Linked DNA regions of Homo sapiens. The protein of the gene in region 2 interacts with the protein of the main gene of each other region in a pairwise test. Each region holds a gene or a part of one and is shown on either strand. Other genes may lie near its edges.

Region 1 (3,751 bases), on a different chromosome or scaffold from region 2:
TTATATTCAATAAAATTTTCACTATTTATAGCTATTTTTATTTACAGCAATAGGTAACCAACTCAATCCCATGTCATCAATGAACAGCATAGCAGCAAGGTTTCCACTTGAAAATAGAAGTTAATTTAGATTTACTTAGGGCTTCATAATTATACAATAAAAGTGAATCATTTTAAAGACATATCATTTACAATGTTATAAATAAGTATCAGAAAGCTCACAGCTGAAATGCTGTCAGAACATTTTCCAAGCACACATTTTGTAGCATTGAACCCCGCTTTTCATTGACAGAATAAAATGAGGCATACAGATATGATCGTTGGTTCCACTAGACTTGTCTAATTTTTTCCAATCTCATATTTTTTTTTTTCCAGATAGGTGAAAACTTGCTCAGTGTGCCTTCCACAGTTGCCACGGCAACTAGCCTATCACACACAGCTCACCTTTTCATTCACTCCGTCGCTATTGTCTTTAGAAGCCTCTTCAGAATGCTGCTTTCCTAGAGCAACCATTGAGCAGTCATTATCTGTTGTCTTGGCATCTTGCTTTGAATTCTTTTTTTGTCCCATTTGAAGTTGGCTAGACTTGTAGGCCAAAGCCGGTATTGTGTTCACTAAAATTAACTGCAATGGTTTTTTGTTTTCCTTGTACTGACACTGAATATACCGTGAAAAGGCTGACCTATAGGTCTTGTTGAACAGTGTGTAGACTAGTGGGTTGACTGCTGAAGAGAGATAACCGATCCAAACAAACACATTGAGCAGGGCCCCAATGACATCCTCATTGCAGGACTCTTTGCAGATGACGGCCATGATGTTTGTGATGAAGAAAGGGCACCACATCACCACAAACAGGAAGAAGACGATGCCCAGCACCTTGCATGCCTTTTGCTCATTGCTGATGGACTGCATAGTCCTCCTGCCTGTGTAGGACCCTGGCTCCCTATGGATCGACCGCTGGAAGAGCTTTTCTGAAGACAAAGAACTCTGAGGGAGGAAGCTGAAAGAAGCTAATTTGGCCCGTGTGCCAAGATCACTTACACACAAAGTAGCTTCTTTCTGGAGTGACTTGATAGTTAGAAAGTAGGTGATCACCATGATGGTTAAGGGAATGAAAAATGACACAAAAGAGCCGATCAGGACAAAGTTATCATCGGCGAGTAAGCAACTCCCCTCCTTAAAGACCTTCGAATCGTCCTGTAGCCCAAAGACTGGTATTGGCATGGATATACCTGGAGTTGAACAGAAAATGAAACATGATTATTAAGGAATTAAGTATATGAAGGCAAGAGCATCATCACATAATATTGGCTATTGAAAAGATTTTATATCATCGTTTAAAAGCTTAACATACTTTGAGAATTTAAAATTCCTTTGGACTTACATATGTGTTTTGTAAGTATATATTATGTAGTTACTTGTATGTTATATTGCCCTATATAGCTAACCCTTATAAAGAAGTATAATAAATCTAGCTTTATTTTTTATGCCACATTTTTCTGATTATAATATTATACTTATTAATTGAAGAAACACACAGAGAGGCAAATAAACTAAAAATTGTCCAATAACGTCACCATCTAGAGATAGCCACAATTAACAACTGATGCTGTTCATTTTATTTATTTATATATTTATTTATTTTTGTCTATGAAAATCTAGAATATAGATTTGTTTCTTTTTTTGATGCTGTTCATTTTAGATACATTCACACACTTACCATGTGCACACATTTTAAAACAGAATTGAGGTTCTTTTTCACAAATAGTTCTGTATCTTTTTTAAAAAATCTAATAATATGTCACAAGCATGGCTTATATATAAAAATAACTATAAAATTTTAAATATAGTTTATTTTCTCTCTAGAAAATTTGGGAGGTACAAAAATGTAACAATGAATAAAGAAAAATAATATGTATTCTCACCAGTCAGGGGCAACCATAATTTACATTTGCATCATTTCTTCTTCCACTTACATGTACATATAAAAGCAAATGTGTATATGCAGTACTTTACATGCAGTACTTTGTACCTTATATGTTTTAGATCTTCCTATTCCATTTAACATTATAAATCATGATAATTGCACATAAAATATTTTTGAGAAATACAATTTTCTAATATTAATTTAAAATAACCAATTTTAATTCTTTTTAAAAAAGCTTTTATTATGGGACATTTTTAACATACACACAACTAACAAACCAAAAACCAAACCCAGTACAGTGAACTCGTCACCCAGCTTCAAAGATTATCAGCTCAAGCCCAATCTTGTTTCATCCATATGTCCTCTGGCTGCCATCCCTCCCATGTTATTATGAAGCAAATCCTAGACATCATGTCATTCAATCTGAAAATATTTATTACGTAGATCTAAAAGCCATGCACTCTTAGACAAACCTAATATTTTCACAATACCATTCTCACTCCTAAATAGAAGTTTAATATTTCCTTAATATTAAATGTAGAGTTAGTGTTCAAATTTCCAATTGTCCCATAAAGGTTGTTCTATGTTTTTAGTAGTAGAGCATTCATAAGGATGGATTGCAAAAAACAAGACAGCCATAGACTTTTTATTGACAAATATAAAAAGTAGGTATAGGATGAGATAATACAGGGGAACATGGGCCTATATGGTTCATTGCTCCATCACCCAGATTTGGGGGATCTGTAAGGCTCCCTCAGGTACAGGGATTAGGCAGAGGAGGAAGCAGAAGTGAATAAAGGCAACCCCTGGCCTCTAATCATGCTATGTGCCCCACTTGATGATAGGACCTTTTTAAAGGAAGATTCAACTGGCCATGTTGTGCAGTTTCACCACCCAGCCCCCACCATGGACAACCTCTCTGCTCCTGGGGAAATAGGTGTATCTTTCTCTACTGGCCTGGGATGGTTGGTCCAAGGCAATCATGAGATGGCTTATTCTCTCTGCCATAAAGGTAGAATCAGGATGATAAAAAAGAGAGGAAACATGAATCAAGTACTCTGTATAACTTAGTTTAAGATTGTTTCTTTCATGAAATGGTAGATATTGCAGGGACAGCCTGGGAGAAAAAGTCAGAAAAATAGTTCCCTTCTAACTCCTGCCCATATTATCAGCACACTCAGAATTGTAGAACAAAGAGTGTTGTGGTTACTGCTTCTGACCGTCTTTAGAGTCTAATACATGGTCTCACACCAGCCAAGAACACCGGTTTATTCCAGAATTGGGGGCCACTGCCTCACTCTTGCCATCCATCTGGAAAAAGGTTTTTGGAGAATCTCTAATCTAACTTCTGCATACTCAGAACAGAGTTCCGCTTCATCCAAGCACAGGCATGACTGTCCTAACCTCATGTCACCTCACATTGGCCATCGTGGCCAGGAAAGAACGCTGAGTTGATGTAATATTCAACACAAATCTTTCTTAGTGACATTTGCCATTATCTTCAAAGACTTAATTAACAATATTTGTCACTTGCCTATGCAAGCCCATCCAGGATTCTTGGAAGGTGGAGATAAATGACATCAGAGCTGTTCATAAGGACACTTATTGTGGCTAATGACTCTTCATTTCCTCCATCCCTCTCTGTTCCTGGCCCATTGTTTGCAACATTCAAGAAGAGATTGATGAGCTGTGCCTCCAAGGAGAACATCCTCTGAGACCCTGGATATTGACCAGTTTTGCTTATCCTTCGGAAAACTCTTGATTGTAAAAGTAAGGGCATGATTTCTAAGAAGAGTGTTTTTCTCCCAGTGTTTGAATCTAGATC
Region 2 (3,751 bases):
AGCTTTCATCTCCTATCTCACCCAAGAGCCTCCAGTCTGACACTCCAACCTTCAGCTATGCAGCCCTGGCAGGACCCACTGTACCCCCAAGGCCAGAGCCAGGGCCAAGTATGGAGCCCAGCCTCACCCCACCTGCAGTTCCCCCCCGTGCTCCTATCCTGAGCAAAGGCCCAAGCCCCCCTCTTAATGGTAACATCCTGAGCTGCAGCCCAGATAGGAGGTCCCCATCCCCCAAGGAATCAGGCCGGAGTCACTGGGATGACAGCACTAGTGACTCAGAACTGGAGAAGGGGGCTCGGGAACAGCCAGAAAAAGAGGCCCAATCCCCAAGTCCTCCTCACCCCATTCCTATGGGGTCCCCCACATTATGGCCAGAAACTGAGGCACATGTTAGCCCTCCCTTGGACTCACACCTGGGGCCTGCCCGACCCAGTCTGGACTTCCCTGCTTCAGCCTTTGGCTTCTCCTCATTGCAGCCAGCTCCCCCACAGCTGCCCTCTCCAGCTGAACCCCGCTCGGCACCCTGTGGCTCCCTTGCCTTCTCTGGGGATCGAGCTCTGGCTCTGGCTCCAGGACCCCCCACCAGAACCCGGCATGATGAATACCTGGAAGTGACCAAGGCCCCCAGCCTGGATTCCTCACTGCCCCAGCTCCCATCACCCAGTTCTCCTGGGGCCCCTCTCCTCTCCAATCTGCCACGACCTGCCTCACCAGCCCTGTCTGAGGGCTCCTCCTCTGAGGCTACCACGCCTGTGATTTCAAGTGTGGCGGAGCGCTTCTCTCCAAGCCTTGAGGCTGCAGAACAGGAGTCTGGAGAGCTGGACCCAGGAATGGAACCAGCTGCCCACAGCCTCTGGGACCTCACTCCTCTGAGCCCAGCACCCCCAGCTTCACTGGACTTGGCCCTAGCTCCAGCTCCAAGCCTGCCTGGAGACATGGGTGATGGCATCCTGCCGTGCCACCTGGAGTGCTCAGAGGCAGCCACGGAGAAGCCAAGCCCCTTCCAGGTTCCCTCTGAGGATTGTGCAGCCAATGGCCCAACTGAAACCAGCCCTAACCCCCCAGGCCCTGCCCCAGCCAAGGCTGAAAATGAAGAGGCTGCGGCTTGCCCTGCCTGGGAACGTGGGGCCTGGCCTGAAGGAGCTGAGAGGAGCTCCCGGCCTGACACATTGCTCTCCCCTGAGCAGCCAGTGTGTCCTGCAGGGGGCTCCGGGGGCCCACCCAGCAGTGCCTCTCCTGAGGTCGAAGCTGGGCCCCAGGGATGTGCCACTGAGCCTCGGCCCCATCGTGGGGAGCTCTCCCCATCCTTCCTGAACCCACCTCTGCCCCCATCCATAGATGATAGGGACCTCTCAACTGAGGAAGTTCGGCTAGTAGGAAGAGGGGGGCGGCGCCGGGTAGGGGGGCCAGGGACCACTGGGGGCCCATGCCCTGTGACTGATGAGACACCCCCTACATCAGCCAGTGACTCAGGCTCCTCACAGTCAGATTCTGATGTCCCGCCAGAAACTGAGGAGTGTCCGTCCATCACAGCTGAGGCAGCCCTCGACTCAGATGAAGATGGAGACTTCCTACCTGTGGACAAAGCTGGGGGTGTCAGTGGTACTCACCACCCCAGGCCTGGCCATGACCCACCTCCTCTCCCACAGCCAGACCCCCGCCCATCCCCTCCCCGCCCTGATGTGTGCATGGCTGACCCCGAGGGGCTCAGCTCAGAGTCTGGGAGAGTAGAGAGGCTACGGGAGAAGGAAAAGGTTCAGGGGCGAGTAGGGCGCAGGGCCCCAGGCAAGGCCAAGCCAGCGTCCCCTGCACGGCGTCTGGATCTTCGGGGAAAACGCTCACCCACCCCTGGTAAAGGGCCTGCAGATCGAGCATCCCGGGCCCCACCTCGACCACGCAGCACCACAAGCCAGGTCACCCCAGCAGAGGAAAAGGATGGACACAGCCCCATGTCCAAAGGCCTAGTCAATGGACTCAAGGCAGGACCAAGTAAGTATATCATGAAACTTGGCAGAGAGTGTGGGTTAGGGCTGGGTGTGGGCTGGTCAGACTTCAGGAGTGGGACAGAGGGGAAGGTTGCCAAAAGGGTTCTACTTTTCCTCTACAATGAATCCTGGCTTGTCTCTACAGTGGCCTTGAGTTCCAAGGGCAGCTCTGGTGCCCCTGTATATGTGGATCTCGCCTACATCCCGAATCATTGCAGTGGCAAGACTGCTGACCTTGACTTCTTCCGTCGAGTGCGTGCATCCTACTATGTGGTCAGTGGGAATGACCCTGCCAATGGCGAGCCAAGCCGGGCTGTGCTGGATGCCCTGCTGGAGGGCAAGGCCCAGTGGGGGGAGAATCTTCAGGTGAGTAGCAAAGGACACCAAGGAAGTAGTCTGGTCAACGCTCACTCAGAGGCAGTAGTGGAACACAGTCCCTATTTATTAAAGGATGGGCCTTTTCTAAGGGCAGCAGAGCTGCTTCTGAGACCATGAGGTGCCCCTTCCCCCTCACCTACCTTCCCTTTATGTTCTCACATCAGACATATCTTATCTCCCTTCTAGGTGACTCTGATCCCTACTCATGACACGGAGGTGACTCGTGAGTGGTACCAACAAACTCATGAGCAGCAGCAACAACTGAATGTCCTGGTCCTGGCTAGCAGCAGCACCGTGGTGATGCAGGATGAGTCCTTCCCTGCCTGCAAGATTGAGTTCTGAAAGAGCCGCCCTCCCTTCCCCAAGGATCCACTCCCCCAGCTCCTTTAGAGAATGGCTACTGCTGAGTCCTTTGGGGTTGAGGGAGATGGGAGCTAGGGGGAGGGGAGGGAGATGTCTTGTTGTGGGGACTTGGGCTGGGCTAAATGGGAGGGGTTGTCCCTCCCCATCATCCATTCCTGTGAGGTGTCTCAAACCAAAGTTAACAGGGAGAGGATGGGGGAGGGGACAAATTAGAATAGGATAGCATCTGATGCCTGAGAACCCTCTCCTAGCACTGTCAAATGCTGGTATTGAATGGGGACTGAGGATGGGTCTCAGAGAGCAACCTCCTCCCTCGTAGAGGGAGATTATATCCCCAACTCCAGGGACCTCTTTATCTCAATCTATTTATTTGGCATCCTGGGAGGGATTTCCAATAGTAATTTATGTGACCTGGGGCAGGATACCGTCAGTGAGGTGCCCAGAGCTGCACCCTTTCCTCCATTTCCCATCCCCCATCTCCTCAACCACCAGGGTCTGAGTTCTAGCAGGGTCCTGGGGGTATCCCACTGCTATACTGTTCTACTGCTTCCCTCAGTATCTGAATGTCTCAATTTAAAACTTGAAGCTCTTTAGACCAATAGACTGGTGAGAGGAGAAAGGAGCTTATCCCCCAGACCCTGCTTTATACCATTCACATCCCAGGGCTGTGTCCAGACAGCACAAAACGGCAAGGAGAGCCCAAGCCCCAATGCCAGAATTCTTCCAAACTCCCTGACTCTTTGAAGTTTTTACTCACCCCATTTCAATTATCCTGATCCCTTCTCATCCCCTGCTTGGCTTCTCTGCATGTGGTCATCTGCTGTGGCTTGGTGTTTAATGGGTTAAAAATAAGCCACTGCCTGACATCCCAACATTTGACACCCCAGCAATGTGTGACTCCCCCAACATTCCACTATGCCATCCTGCAGCTGAAATGGGAACACTGGCTGCCTCTCCAAACCCGCTCTTGGACAGAGGATCTGGGAGGTGGAAGCCAGGCCAGAGGACTTGGGGAAAATGAGATG

What was found.
Region 1: the proteins of MAP1A (region 2) and HTR2A interact in a two-hybrid assay, tested with the Homo sapiens proteins (one study listed by IntAct).

Annotation. Positions count from the first base shown.
Region 1 is NC_000013.11:46,834,409-46,838,159, forward strand, and holds part of HTR2A (5-hydroxytryptamine receptor 2A), read right to left. Parts: intron 1,232-3,751; coding exon 429-1,231; 3' UTR 1-428. UniProt on the Homo sapiens protein: G-protein coupled receptor for 5-hydroxytryptamine (serotonin).
Region 2 is NC_000015.10:43,527,520-43,531,270, forward strand, and holds part of MAP1A (microtubule-associated protein 1A), read left to right. Parts: coding exon 1-1,989; intron 1,990-2,130; coding exon 2,131-2,351; intron 2,352-2,549; coding exon 2,550-2,705; 3' UTR 2,706-3,751. UniProt on the Homo sapiens protein: Structural protein involved in the filamentous cross-bridging between microtubules and other skeletal elements.